Regions from separate parts of the Homo sapiens genome. Here region 2 is linked to region 1. The links come from fine-mapping of genetic effects on gene expression. Tissue or cell type: lung. Region 1 holds a variant in brackets; the other region holds the start of a gene. All regions are shown on one strand. Distances are between the middles of the regions.

Region 1 (8,000 bases):
ATGTGCAAAAGTTCAGGGTAATGGTGCCTATCATGGCCCGGGCACTGAGGTAGGCATGGGGGCAAATGCAGAAGGATGAGATAGAATTATTGCCTCAAGGTGGCTCAATAAAGAATGGTCAAAGGAAAGAGTGCTAGCATTTTTTACCAACTAGTATGTGCAACACATATCTCTTCTCATTTCAAGAATTATTTTGGTTGGAACCATGCAGAAGAGAAAACTGAAATTGGATTAAAGAACCGGGCTTTCAACCCAGGCCTTTTGGACTCCAAAGCTGAAGCTAGCTTTTACTACTCTGACATAGTTGTACCATGTCAAGTGTCTTTTAATAACTCAGCATTTTGTGTTTCTCTGTCTCCCTGTTGCAGGTATTACCAGCAGAGATATCACGACATGTTTTGGAGGCTCCTTGGGCATTCAATATGAAGACAAAATAAATGTTGGTGGAGGTTTATCAGGAGACCATTGTAAAAAATTTGGAGGTGGCAAAACTGGCAAGTGTTTAGTAATAGATCTCCCAAAAAGAGAAGCCAGGCTTTCCTTTGGACACACACTGGGACATGGAAGCTATTTTTTTTCCCAGTTGATTGCATTTTAGTCAATGATCAGACTGCATAGACGCTAAATACCCCAAAACAATGACCTGCAGTGGCTTTATTTTGAATCTACCATGGGCTTAAAATCACCTTAGAAATACCTACCTTTATACGGGGCACCCTCCTAGATTTCAAGGGTTAGACAAAGGTCCAAGTAAGAACTAGAATGAAAGGAATCTGGAAAATGGGCTGTTTGAATGAAGACCCATCATATTACAGTTCAGAGGGAGGAAATAAGGCTGTTGAGAGAGAATATGGTACCGAGTCCAAGCTCAAAGAATAATTATTAGAGAGGGATTGTACAGGAATATTTTATGGCATTTCCTGAACAAGTCAGTTGGGGTGTTCATGTGTTCATTTACTCATCCATTCATCAAACAGGTATTGAGTTTTTTTCCCCAAGTGGGAGACACAGAGGATACAGGGATGATGAAGAAGTTTATAATGCAGTGGGTGGAATAGATATTAATCAGGTTCAAGCTATTCCTATTGCATTAGGTTACCTGTACCTCAGGGCCTTAAGTCAAATTGTTTCTTCTCTCTTTCTATCCTCTCTTCATTTACCTGGCAAATATTCACTAACCTTTGTAGACAACTCACCTTTCTTTCTGACTGCCTCCCACACCCCCTACTGTATAGCTAACTAGTTTCTTTCACTGTGCCCACATTGAGTCCTATAGTAACATCTGTTGTACCTATAGCACCTATAATATTTGATTGAACCTATTCGGCATATAGCAGGCACTGAGTAAATATTTGATGTAAGAATGAATGAGTGAATGAATGAATAAATGAATGACCACCCATTTCCTGTTCCCCTTATCCTCCATGTGGTCTGGGCTGTCCTCTCAGTATTTCTCCACTCCAGAGGATGGGTCTATTTCTGAGTCTTGGTCCTTCCCTTCTGCCTTGTCCTGCTAGCTAACCAAGAAGAGAAGAAGAATGGTAAACATCTAAGGAAAACATGTAAACTTTCTTCCAAATCTCATTAGTGGGGTTTGTCAACCAGTCCTTGGGCTTTTTGGGAAATGAGTTAATGCAGTTTATCCTCTTGATGGCAGAAAGGGCCAGGAAGGCCATGGCTGTGGAAGACATTATTTCTCGGGTGCGAGGTGGCAGTTCTGGCTGGAGCGGTGGCTTGGCACAGAACAGGAGCACCATTACATACCGTTCCTGGGGGAGGTCATTAAAGTATAATCCTGTTGTTATCGATTTTGAGGTAAGTCTTTTCGCAGTTGAAGAAACTCTACGTCCATGAGGAATGAAAGTGAAGCAGACCAGATCATTTCATATTTCTTATTATGAGCCCATCAAAGAACAAGATTAAATGTAATGGCACACTGAACTAGTGGCCTTGCTTGTGCCTGACTCCAGGGAGTGCATGACTTCAGACCCAGGCCACGGGACAGCTGGGATCAGAAACTGATGATCTAGTCAGTGCCTAGTTTTACACTGCTCATCCCAGAAGTTCCTCAGCATTAGGTCACATTAGGCAAATCATGATTTTTATTTATACATAAAACACTTCAAAAATCACATGGGCTAAATTAGGGGGTGGCAAACTTTTTCTGTAAAAGGTCAGATAGTAAATATTTCAGGCTTTGTGGGACACATACAATCTATAATACACAAAGTAGTAGTATTAGTTCTTCTTCTTTCTCTTCTTCATCAAATCTCTTTAAAAATATAAAAGTCATTCCTGGCTCAAAGGCCATACAAAAATAAGCTGTGGGTTGGACTTGGACCCAGGCTGCAATTTGCTACCATCCTCCACAGTTATCTCATCTCTCCATTAGAGGAACCTCTGTCATAGATACTATTCCCTCCCATTAAAAAGATTAGGAAACAGGCTCTGAAAAATCAAGTGAAAATATTTGAGGTCATATAGCTCAGAGGTGGCAATGCTTGGATTTCAGACCTTTGGACTTCGTATCCAGTTCTCACTTCTCTCTATCCTAGCACCTCCATTAAAGCAGTGGCTCTCAGCTACTAGGGGCAGTTTTCCTCCACAGAGGAAATATGGAAATGTCTGGAGATGTTTTTGATATTTTTGTCACCACCCACAGTGGGGCAAGGAGGTGTTACTGGCATCCAGGAGGCAGAGGCCTGGGATGCTGCTAAACATCCTTCCATGCACAGAACAGACCCCACAGCAAAGAAATATCTGGCCTCAAGTGTCAATACTGCCAAAATTGAGAAACCCTGCCTTAAATGCTTAACCTCACAAAGTGTGAAAAATTCTATTTTAACCACAAAGGAAGTGATTGTTCTAGCAGTTGCCAAACTATTTCTGTCCATATGTGGTGTAGTCCATTTAAGAGACTGCATTTCAGACTTTGAAGCAAAAGATCATCATTTTCTCATCCATTTTCTCCCCACCCTTGCCTATTTTTCTACATATATTTAAAATCCCAGATATGGATATAGTCCTCCTCTTAAAACATATGCCTACAGTTAAACCTAGAAGTCTATTCTAACACCCTGGTTTCTGTGAAGAAACAGGTCAGATGGATCAACCTTGATTTTATTTCTTCTTCAATAAGTAAGAGACCATTTTCATGCAACTGTAATTCACATAAGGTTTGAAAATTGATATCATCAAGCTATTAGTGATTTGAGCAAAAACTGTAAAATTGATATCAGGAGTAATACATAAACTTTCATAGGCAAGAGGTGAACTTGGTGTTTGCCTTGAGAAAAACTTCCCTGGGAAGACTCAGGGTCATCATTTGGAGAAGACCACTACAGTCTTTTGGGAAAGAGCCCAGGCTTTGGCAGGATTGGGTGAGAGGGAGGAGAAAGACATAATTTAGGTCATAGCTCAGCTGCTTTTTCAATGTGTGACCTTTGACAAGTTACTT[C/T]CCTCACTGAGCCTCAGTTTCCTGCTCTATCACATAGAGATATTTCACAAGACTCAGGAGATCAGAAGTTACTTGGTAAATGTCAGTTGAAGAAACAGGTTCAGCACAATATCTCGAAATTGGCAAATGATAGAGTCCAACTCGAGTCATGTTTGACTGACACTAACATCCTCAGTCTCTTCACAACTCATGTTGCCCCCTGAGAAGTTCGGACTCAATGCATTAAGCCACGGGCAGGCTTTATAGCAGGGAAGTAACACAGCTAGCACTGTGTTTTAAAAAGAGAATGCTCACAGGGAAATAAAGGGTGATTTGAAGAAGAGAGAGATTACAGACAAGGGGACCAGGTAGGGGTTATTTGGAGCCTGATGTTCAGAGTGGAAACAGCATGTTATTCACTTGCATATACCCCAGAGTTCAGCAGTGCTTATTTATAGCAAGTGCTTAGAGTTTGTGAATGTAGGAGTCCTGCTATGTTACGTTTGTGTTATGTTATTTTGTTATGTTGTGTTGTGTGATATATTATTATGCATTATCTTGTGTTGCTATATTGTATCATTTGACCTCTGAGTCTTTTTTCTCATCTGCAAAACGGGAACAAGATCACTGCCAATACCTTTTCAAGCTCTAACGTCCCAAGATCCCTCTTCTCCACCTCTCTCTCCTCTTTTAACTCCACCAGTCCACCCTATGGAGGGCTTCCCCTCTTCCTGTGGTTCCTGGGAGGGAGAGATCTGAGGTGGGGAACTGGATGCAGAGCCCCACTGGAAAGTCAAAGAGAAATTGCTCAATGGTCCTGGCTTTCCCTGGAACTAACAGTCATCTTTGAGAAGGCCAACAGGGCAGCCTATTCTACGCTGACTTCCTAACAATGGGACTGAATTCTCTGAACTTCCAGTAAGTGGTTTTCTCCCCTTGGCTGGGGACCCTACCAGTCCTGATATTACCTGCCTGCTGACCTCAACCGCAACCCCTGACCACAGGCCAAAGTCTGTTTGCCACAGGTCTTTCTGTACACATTTCCAGGAACTCAGACAAAGCTATTGCCAGTGCCCTCAGTTGACTTCTGTTTCCAGGGAAGTGCGACTACCGTAATGTGGCTCAGTCCTACTGCTGACTTGCTCTGGCACAGTCCTACTGCTGACTTGCTCTGTGACCTTGGCAAATCACTTCCCCTTTGGGGGCCTCAGGTTCCTCTCCTTAAAATGAGAGATCTGGAGAAGTGCCTTCCTTTTATGAAGTATTAACATGTATAACATTATAAGCATGCTGAAGATAACCACATATGCATGCAATTTGAAAAACATGGGTTTTTTTTTTTTTTTTACTATTATCACATACAACTAACAAAAATGGTGCTTTATTTTTTGTCATTCTTCCCTTGTACAGTAGTATCTCACATTCAGTACTTCTTTAGATCCTCATAAGAAATCTGGGAATTAAGTATTATTCCCATTTTCTAGATAATGAGGATCAGACTTAGACAGGGGCAGTTAGGCCACATAGCTAGAAAGTGAGTCACATTTACTTAGTTTTACCATGTGACAGGTCTTTCCCCTATATCATCTCCCTTAATCCTCACAATAATCCTGGAGGGTGTGATGACTGTTCTCCCTTTACAGATGAGGAAGGAGGCTCCGTGTGTCATGTGCCAAAGATCACACAGTCGGAAGCAGGGTAGCTGGGGTTTGAAGCCAGGTTTTCCGGCTCCAGATTCAATCCTCCTTGTGCTTCATCTACTACTTCTCAGTCGAGGCAATTGTTTCCCCCAAGGAATATTTGGCAATGTCAGGAGACAGTCTTGGTTTTCACAACTGGAAGGGGGCTGCTGGCATGTAGTGGGTAGAGGCCAGAGACTCTGCTAAACAGCCTACAATACAAGGACAGCCCACTCCTGCCAGTAAAGAATTATCCAACTTGATACGCAATAGTGCCGAAGTTGAAAAACCCTGAACTACGGTCATGTCTGGAATGGGTTGCATCAGTTGTAAATAACTCCCACCCAGCCACATGTAGCTGCCACAGTTACACCATTAGGGAAATTGCTCAGCAATGACAACAACACTACCTGTCAAGGATTTTATTAATTCCTGCATTGAAGGCTGACATTTAAAACACACACTTTTCCTGCTTCCTAAATGTGGTGGAGAGGGCAGATGAGTTGGCACAAATAACTTCTAAGCCCACTTGGGATTGGGAGTGCACAGGTTTCAGAGTTAAGTAGGTGATTCTTGTGAGGAATGCACACATTGCTCCAGGATCACTGTGAGGATTAAGGGAGATGATATAGGGGAAAGGCCTGTCATATGGTAAAAGCTAAGTAAATGTGCCTCACGTCCTAGCTGTGTGGGCTGGGACTTTTAACTGCCCCTCTCTAAACCCGATCTTCATTATTATTTCTTAATAATTGTGTGCTTCTGAGCCAGTCACTTAAACACTGAGCCTCCCTTTCTTCTGCTAGGAGCTGAGGAGTTTAATACCTATGTCACAGAATGGCTGTGAGGATCCAAGGTGGTGGGATAAATTGGGTGTCTGTGTCTGTGCCTGGCATGTATCAGGCCTTCCAGAAGCTTGGTGGCCGGTTCTTGGGCTCTGGGAAGGTAGATAGAGCCCAGGGAGGGGCCCTGTGTTCTTTCTGTGCCCACAGATGCAGCCTATCCACGAGGTGCTGCGGCACACAAGCCTGGGGCCTCTGGAGGCCAAGCGCCAGAACCTGCGCCGCGCCTTGGACCAGTATCTGATGGAATTCAATGCCTGCCGATGTGGGCCTTGCTTCAACAATGGGGTGCCCATCCTCGAGGGCACCAGCTGCAGGTGCCAGTGCCGCCTGGGTAGCTTGGGTGCTGCCTGTGAGCAAACACAGACAGAAGGTAAGGTCCGTGCATCCCCACCCAGTTCCAGCCTGTCCCAGCTCAAAGGGGCCAGTGCAAAAAGGACTTTTGGGGTTCCCGGCCCCTCCTTTTGGAGCTCTCCTAGCCAATACCTAGGAGCCACCCTTGAGAGTTCTGTTACTCACCCATCACATTTAGTGGTTCTTGTGCTTTGTCCTTGCCATCAAGACCTTTTCTCAGATGAGAACTGTTTTTCGCCAAGATGTATATGGACAACAGGATTCATTTCTGGAGGAATAAACTAGTTTCCTAGGGCTACCATAACAAATCATCACAAATTAGGTGGCTTATAACAACAGAAGTGTATTGTTTCAGACCTCTGGAAGCTAGAAGTCCAAAGTCAGGTGTGTTGGCTAGGTTGGTTCCTGCCAGAGACTGGGGGAGTATGTGGTTCAAGTCCCTCTCCTATCTTTTGGTAGTTGTCAGCAATCCTTGGCATTTCTCGGCTTATAGATGCATCGCTCCAGTCTCTGCCTCTGTCTTCGTGTGGCATTCTTCCCTCTATAACTCTGTTTCTCTTCTTATAAGAACCACCAGTCACTGGGTTTGAGACCACCCTAATCCAGCATGACCTCATTTTAATGTGATTTCATCTGCAAAGATCCTATTTCCAAATAAGGTCATGTTCACAGGTAACAAGGGTTTGCCTTGAACATATCTTTTGAGGAAACACAATTAAACTCACTAAAAGAGATAGGTAGTTGTCATTATAGTGTAAGAAGTTATGACTAAAAACAAGGTTTGGGCAAGGAAGGTTTAAATGCAGATAACTGCAACATGAACCAACTGGTACCAGGGAAGAAAGTTATCAAACAAGCATTAAAAGTCCATTGCTTAAAAATGAAGAAGTCTGGGGACTTGGATGTGAATCCCAGATACTTTACTAAGTCACTGTGAGACACTAATTGTTCACATCTTTCTGGGGCTTAGCTTTCTCATCTATGTTCCCTTTTAGCCCCAAGAGTATGCATGTTCCAATTCCTAAGCTCCCACTTTTTCAGGCACATAAAACTGTTTGTATGGTACATAAAATGATGGCAAAATGTATGGACTACCTAATCAATGTACACATTAACCTAAATTGGCTATTGCAATGAAGAAAACACAAAGGGAAAAACAAAGAAGTCTGGATGGGAAATCCAAGGTATTACAATTGACTCCAGAAAACAAAGGGTTGAAGCACAGGGTGGAGGGGGCTGAAGCCATGTGGCTCAATGGCCATGTGAAAGAAACAGGCCAACCATTAGTCCCAGTTCACTCAGTGGGAGCCTGATACAGACGGCCCCACAGTGAAAGACGGGTTAACAAAAGTCAAGAGCTCAGGATAAGATTCTTCTCTGGCGTACCAAGATTTTTGTTCTTGGTGCCACACCTCACCGGATACTGACAAAGCAAAGCAGGCAATCCAGAGAAGTGGGAAGGCTCAAACCTATGTATTAAGAAGATCTGGAAAGATTGGGAATTTTAGGCATGAAGAAGAAAGACTCAGAAAGGACAAGTCCCACATAAACTGCCATGTGGGAGGACATGGAACTTGTATTCTATGGCCACTGAGATTAGGTTGTAGGACTAAAGGAGAGAAGCTATAGCAAAGGGATTAGGGCTTAATGAGGGAGGACTTTCTTCTGCATGTACTGCAGCAAGAATGAGGG
Region 2 (8,000 bases), 56 kb after region 1:
CTGGATCTTTAATGAAAGGTCAAAGACTACTGGAAACCACAGGTGGATACTTTAAAACGGTTACTTGAGGCAGGATGCTACACACCAGTGGGGGGCTTCAGAGTGTGTTCTTATCTACTAATTTGCCCAGGTTTGACAAAACAATATTGTCTGTGATTTGGCTTCTCCTAAGTATGTATTTGACAGCTCTGCAGGGTACCCTCTTCCTATTTCAACTACAAAACTGTTACATTATGTTTTTAGCAACCAAGACAACTCCAGGGCCATAGGTGAGACTGAGCAGGTAAGTAATGTACACACTAGCTATTAAGAGTCACAATTATTTTCGTCTCTGAGATTTGAAAGCCTGTTAATGGGCAAGATGATCACTTACGGAAAGAACTTGGTAAAAAGTAGTTATATCCACCACATCTCTCATTTTTGCACCCAATTTTCATTATGGAAGGTGGCAATATAATGAAGTAACCAGCTGAATAAATAGTATGTTTGTAAATTACATCGGATGAGATGTGTGTGGTTTATTAGTACTATAAAATGCAAATCTGAAAGAAAGGCTAGGATTAAACAGCATCTTTAGTTCCTGGGACTAACGAGGAGCCACATAAATTCTAGGTTCCCTCAGGGCCTCTGTGTGTGGGAACAACATGAGCCTTTCACCCCTATGGATTTCTATAGAAACAAACCTGATGGACATTTTGACCAACTGACTAAACTTCTGTCATTAAAAATCCTCTGTATGCTTTTAACATTGAAAAATTAAGCATGCCTAGAGAAGTACAAGAAATAATATAATAAACACCCATGTACTCACATCCAGATTGGCAGTTGTTCACACTTTGGTACACTTGCTTCAAGTCTTTTTGTAAATTTTTAATTTTGACATCTGCATTTTACAGCAGCCTCGATTTTGCTCCCCCCACCTTACCCCCAGAGGGGCTATTGCCATGAATTTGGTGTGTTTCCTTCCAGTCTCTTTTAGATAATTTGATGTCTATACACTATCTATAGTATTGCTTGTGTGTGCTTTATTCATACTTACACATATGATTCTGCAACTCACTTTTGTTAATCAACATTGCATTTCTGAAGTTATCCATGTTGATTCATAAAGAGATCTAGTTCATTTCTTTTGTCTGGATGTTCTATCATATGACACACATTGCATTTAATTTATTCCTTCTCTTTTTGAGGGACATTTATATTTTCCCAATGTTTTGCGATTGCAAATAGAGCTACAGTAAACGCCCTTGCTCAGCTCCTTGAACATGTGCCCCCTCTACTTAAGGACTGGCAAGGAGGTGTCTTTCCTGGGGATGCAGAAAATGCTGTAGCCAGCATTAGGACACATTTAACTGGGCCCAGGTCTCCCACTCTTTTCCTAACAGGCGTCTCTGATCAAAATAAAGATGGATCCATCCAGTACAGCAGGATTGGGTCAGCAGTAAATTGCAAGCCATCAGCTTATATAGATGGGGTGCGTCAATATATTTTGGCTTTCGGTAGAAATGCCCTGACACAACAACTTTCTTGTCACACACAATTTGTTAAGCAGCTGCATCCCCTTTGCAAACAGCATCCTTTTTCTTTGCTAGAAGGGGCAGCTTCTAGGTGGCAGGTTTTCAATTTCTCTTCTCTCTGTCGTTTGCTGTGGTAGACATGAAATTTAAAGCAACATCTCAAGGCAACAAATGTGTGGCCCAGAGATGGAGAAACAGCACAGAGGCCAACAAGTCAGATACACAATGTGGAGGTTGGGGGGTGGTGGGGGGTGGGGAGGGGACAACGCATTAGTGAGAAGCAGAAGGATGCAGAGAGAGTGCAGGGACTCTGAGACCTGAATGAAACTGGATTTGAATCCATAGTTAGCTGTTTGTTAAGTGGATAGCCTTGGGACACTTATGTTTTCTGTTTCCCTCTCTGTGAAACTGTAAACAGTAGCACTTACCTGGAATAGCTGTGAGGATTATAGCTAATGTTTCCAAGTTGCTGGCACAGAGTGGCAATACATAATAGGTCTTACGACACAGTGATTGTGATTTCATCATCTGACTTGATTACAAGAGTAAGTAAGAACAAAAAACTCTTTTGGCCAATACGAAGGTGGTCTCAGCATTTTCTGTTCCAGAACCAAAGACTATTCTTCTACTCGCAGATGGAATTCAAATACCTGTCGTGTTCAAGACAGCCCCATGGGGATTATAGGTGGATGTCAGAACTATACCCAGATTCAGGTAAGGGTTTGAAAACCTCACCACACATGCGTGAATCTTTTCTTGTCACTGAGGATCAGTTTGTTCTCTTACATAGCGAGAAGGAGAGATTACACCCACCTCATGATGTTGTAGTGACAATTAAATACAATTTCTCAGACTGCACTCTAATCAACAATTTGCCCCTCCACTCCCTACCTCAGAGTGAACTTCCTAATATATATATTTGATCGTGTCACTCCTTTGCTTCAACTCTTCAATGGCTTCCCAATGCATTGTGGTGAGGATATAGTTCAAGTTCCTTAGCTGGTACTCCAGCATCCCCCAACTCTGCCCATGACATGATGCCTGTTCACTCCTACTCTATCTCATCCCTCTCAACTTCCTGCCGGGACCTGTGTTCAAGGCCCACTGAGGTGTCTGGAAGCTTCAGGAGCAAGCCAGCTCTCTCACACTCACGCACCGTTGCCTGTGCTGCTCCCTCTACCTGGCACACCTTTCAACCCCTTAGCCATTCGGCAAACACCCACGCACCTGTAGAGATTCAGCCCTCACACTCTCTGTTCTAGAAGCCTTTCCAGGCCCTATGCCCTGTAGAGCTGATCATTCCCTCCTTGTTTCCTGGCTGCCCCGTAGCATCTTTTGTAACGGTACACATAGCATATGCTCACATGTTGGCATTCTTTGTGAGAACATAGGCTCATCTCTGTATCCTCAGAGCCCAACAGAAAGCTCCACCCAGGGGCACAATGCTATAGATAGGGTTGCTATGGTTCCCTTAAGTCCTCCATTCCGGAGACATTTTCTTGGGTCCTGAATGCTTCTCTGTGTACACACAGTACACACAAGGAAGGTCTTGGCAGCTTAGTTATTCTCTGGGCTAAATGGAGTTTCTTGATCATCCTAATAGCTGTTACTTATTGAGTGGCCAATAGATAGTGAACGAATGCTCATCATCCTGTGGTTCCTAATGGCAGCTCAACAGAACTGAGACCAGAGGCTGTGTCCCATGGGTAGGAGGTACTCCTCACATAAAGTGAAAGGTTTGTTCAGATCTCATTTTTGGACTAAGTAAAAGGAATGGAATTACAGTCCCTCTTCCCACAGGAGTGTTTACATGGAGGCCGGGGACACATGCACACTTCAACATCTCATGGCAGGGGTTTCTCATGCACACGGAGCATCCCCACATTGCTACGTCACTGGCTCTTCTATCACTGGAGCCCAAGTTTGAGCTCCCACTAGGATATTTTCTTTAGCTTGTTTTGCACCTTGTTAATGGAGACTAACAATGATGAAATAAATCAGCCAGCATTTAACTGCTGGGAACCTTGTGGGGGGTGAGAGAGAGAGAGAGAGAGAGTGTGTGTGTGTGTGTGTGTGTGTGTAAGAAGGGGGTGGGAAAGAACCTGAGAATCTGAAGATTTGGGGTTGATGAGCAGGTAGAGTAGGTCAATCTCATTTATTAAAATCATTTCATGAATTTGCTCTTTTGTCCTCTGTATGTAACAAACTTTCTTTTTCATAAAGAATCACACGGAGGCTTTGTTCAGAATACAGAAAAAATATCCTATTCTTCTCAGCATGACAAAATACATTTAAACCTGTCAGTTTCTTACAGGAACTTTTGTTGAAATCAGCTACTTGGTTCCACAATAATTTGAAAAGAGTTGTTGATAGTATGTTATCAGATGCATGCAAATTGCCTTAAGAGACGTTCCTCATTCAATAGGCATGCAACAAAGAGATGGTCAGCATCATGTGGCTGCACCTTCCCTGTCATATTATTGATCAGGGAATTATTGGTAACTGTCACTTACCTGGAGCCAGGCAAACTGAGACAGCCCAGGGCAGCACAGAGAAGAAATAGCTCCACCGGCGCCCTCCAAGCCCATGTCCTGGAATTCTTCATTTTCCCAATGTGACAGGAGATGCCACAGAGGCTGCTAGACCCATAACAAGCCTGTGCTGTGAGTGCCACTGTCAGCTTCTGTCCCCAAGAGCAAATAGCTCTGCAAAGTAAACAGAAAGCCACTAGTGACTGGAAACAGACTTTGCACAGACCAAAAACTTACCTGTCACTCTGGAAACCAACCAGAATAATGAAAAATCTGTAGCAGCATGGTGTTTATTCCTCTGTAACTTTAGGGTAAGCTGCCAAGTGGACAGGCTATTAGTGAGGTGGCAAGGACTGTGGGATCTAGGTCTAGACAGCCTGGGTTCAAGTACATTCTCTGCCACTGACTAGGTTGGTGCAAAAGTAATTGCAGTTTTTGTCATTGCTTTTAATGGCAAAAACCACAATTACTTTTGCACCAACCTAACAGCTTTGGACTATGGGCAAGTTGCTTTACTTCTGTGCCTTACTCTCCTTACTTGCTAAGTGGTGAGAATTAAACACGTTAATATAAGGAAATGTTTAGAACAGGCCTATGTTCAGCGCTCAGATATGTCAGCTATTATTACTTAGTAGAATTCAGGGTTTGGAGTCAGACAGGCCAAGGTTTGAATTCCATGTTTGCCTCTTTCCAGTTACATGATGTTGAGCAAGTCAGTAAGAGGCTGTAGGGCTCTAGAACCCATCTACCTGACTTCAAATTGCTTCTGTATGATTCACCAGCTGTGTGGCCAGAGAAAATTACTAACCCTCTCTGGGCCTAAGTTCCTTCATCAATAAAACAGGGATAATAATAATACCAACCTCACCGGGTTGTTGTGAAGATTAAATAAATTAGATTATTATTAATTATTATTGTAATTATAATTAATTATAATTATTATTATTAAATAAATTAGATTTATTTAATCTTCACAACATGTTCAAAACATGTTGAACATTGCCTGGCACATTCTATGTGCACTCTCTATAAGTGAGCTGGTATTTTTATTGACTGTCTCTGATTCTGTTTCTTCATATGTAAAATTAGGAGGACTATGACAACTTACCACTCACAGTTGGGAGAGTCAGACCAAATACTAAATGTGTAATTGTTGAACAAATAGGCATTATAGAAATAACTACATGACACTTTGGGAGGCCGCGGCGGGCGGACCACGAGGTCAGGAAATCGAGACCATCCTGGCTAACATGGTGAAACCCCGTCTCTACCAAAAATACAAAAAAAATTAGCCAGGCATGGTGTTGGGCGCCTGTAGTCCCAGCTACTCGGGAGGCTGAGGCAGGAGAATGGCGTGAACCTGGGAGGCAGAGCTTGCAGTGAGCCGAGATCGCGCCACTGCACTCCAGCCTGGGTGACAGAGCGAGACTCCGTCTCAAAATAAAACAAAACAAAACAAAACAAAAAAAACCCAGGAAATAACTACATGAAAATAATTATCTAAATATATATGTGCTGTTGTTGTTATTGTTTGCATCCCAAAAGATACAAATGACTGAGGTTCTCAAACCTACCTTCCTGAAAACCATCCCTGACTCCCCAGAATCAACATATTAAAGTCCAAACTGCACCAACCTGGCATTTACAAAACCAACCTGCAACGCATAAAGGGCTGAGTCCACGTGTTGGATGGCGTCCTGTTGCTTTTGCTATTGCAGATGTGGGTGAGGAACCTCACATGGGAGAGGCAGCTTGCAAGGTATGAGGGTGGGCTAGTAGAAAGAACACTGGATTTGCTTTCCTTAAACACAGTTACAGAGTTTCTCTAAGACTCTGTTTTCTCATCTGTGAAATAGGGATAATAATTCATTACTACCTACTTGATAAGTTTGTTTTGGGTTTGAACGTACAAAACGGGAAGCCTCCCCCTCCTGCCACCCCTGCCGAGTAGCTGGGTTGGGGTTGGAGAATCAAATAAGGAAGTATAGTGAGGGGATGGATGGGAAAGCCACAGAAGATGGTAGTCCTCTCACATTAATTGTGTCCAAAACACAGAACACAAGTTCTGCTGCCAGACCACCCAGGATGCATTCCAGTTGTCATAAGCCTAGGTGCAAGACTCCATGTCACCGTTGTCCCAAAGGATGAATTGACCTGAACTTTGACGCAATTGATTGTGGTGGTTAATCATTTGTAAACAAGCAGAAACTTGTGTTTCAAGAAAGATCCATGTCCTGTCTCCTATCTGCCTGCCTTTAAGAGAAGCCAAACCCTTAGAAGACAGGGCTCCCCTTCGACCTCCTCAACCTGATGTACTCACGGAGGAGCCTGCAGGTTTAGAGAGGACAGTTACACGAGTGAATCCTGTGCTCTCTCACCTCCAGGATTTTTGCATGCCGTTCCTTCTGTCCAGAGTATGTGCCACTTAGCTAAATACGACTCATTATTCGAGTTTTATATTAATGTCACTTGCTCAAGAAAGCCTTCCCAATAGATTCCCCTGGGGTTCTTAACGCTCCAGGCGCCCCCAGGTCTCCCGGAGTTCCAACCTCATCGCGCCCCCTGGTGGTTTCCCAGTGCAGCTCACCTGAGATCCCGCCTGGAGGACGGCAGCCTCAGGCTTTAGTGATAGTAATACACATATTTTTCAGGGACAGTTCTTAACAATTTAACAGTTTTCCCATACATCATCTTGTTTGATTTTGACAATAAGCCAAGAAACATAATATCATCTTCCAAGCCTCTAAGATGGGGCTTCACAGCTGTTTCCACAGCTGGTTAGTAGGACATCTTTGGCTTGATACACTTTTTTTTCTGACTCCTAAATGCTCCTTTTTCTAGCTCTGAAGCTTCCCCTTGCCCTTAGGATGTGCCAGCACTGCTTTAAGTCTTCACAGTTATCACACCACACTGCTCTTCTGGTCTAGCTGCTCTTACTCAGGGCTATAGATCTCATCTCTGACCATGCGAGAGCTTTGAAACTGATCATATGTCTCTAGGCCTTTAAACGATATGAAGGAATTTGTAACTCTAGGTCTGCGGATCCACTAACAGTTTGTTGTTTTTCCAACTTTTATTGACTGATTTTCCAGGCTCCACCCAGTTCCACAGCCAATGCCACTTTTCATGTTTCTGCTATGGCAGCACTCCACTCCTGGTACCTATTTTTGTATTAGTTAGCTTTTGCTGCATAACAAATAATCCCAAAATTGTAGACTAAAACAATCATCATTTATCAGCTCACAATTCCTTGGGTCATCAAATAGGCCTAGGCTAAAATGGGTGCTGGCCTTGCCTTGGTTCAGCCAACTGGTAGGTCAGCAGGAGCCTGGTTGGTCCAGGATGGCCTTACTCACCTGCCTGATGATTCATTCTGTCTGTCAGTTAGCACTGGCTGTTGGCTGAAGTGATGAAGTAAATGGGCCACATGACTCCAAATAGACTAACTCAGGCTTGATCTCAGGGTGATCTAATGGTTTCAAAAAGCAGCAAGAAAAGACAAGCCCCAGTGCACAAGTGCTTTCCAAACTTCTGCTTGCCTGATGTTTCTTAATGTCTCCTTGGCTGAAGCAATGGCCAAGCCCACATTCAAGAGCTAGAGACAGAGCTTATACCTGTTGATGGGAGGAAGAGCAGAGTCACATTGCAAAGGGGTATGCCTACAATTTTGGAAGGAATTCGTGGACATTCGGCAATTTCTTACAGACATGTGACACTTTCGGGCTGAAGCACTTAAGAGCCAGTGTGCCCTGTCCATTTCTGTCTTCTGTCCTGTGGATTTGGAAGCATGTGTTGACAGAACAATGTCTTATGGTGAAGGAAGCCTAAACCCCTGAGTCATTGGATGGAGGAGAGCCCATGTTGACCCATAAAGGACTTCATGTGAGTTAGAATTCAACTTTTGTTGTGCTATGTTATTGGGATTTGGTGGTTTATTGTTGCTGCAATAATA

What was found. PIP is the estimated chance that this variant, and not a neighbour inherited with it, causes the effect.
Region 2: C8B starts here. The variant in region 1 is fine-mapped to the expression of C8B in lung (TOPMed, PIP above 0.99).

What each region holds. Positions count from the first base shown.
Region 1 is chr1:56,906,299-56,914,298 of GRCh38, forward strand. It overlaps C8A (complement C8 alpha chain), which reads left to right. Exons shown (of 11, transcript NM_000562.3): 8 at 369-494; 9 at 1,658-1,815; 10 at 6,105-6,327. Among named protein-coding and RNA genes, the nearest start is that of C8A, 56 kb to the left of the region's middle. The variant C/T (reference allele first, on the strand shown) is at 3,458.
Region 2 is chr1:56,961,827-56,969,826 of GRCh38, forward strand. It overlaps C8B (complement C8 beta chain), which reads right to left and starts at 4,189. Exons shown (of 12, transcript NM_000066.4): 1 at 4,031-4,189. The coding sequence starts at 4,122. LOC112267900 (a long non-coding RNA gene) reads left to right here and starts at 2,146. Exons shown (of 8, transcript XR_007066117.1): 1 at 2,146-2,231; 2 at 7,754-7,930.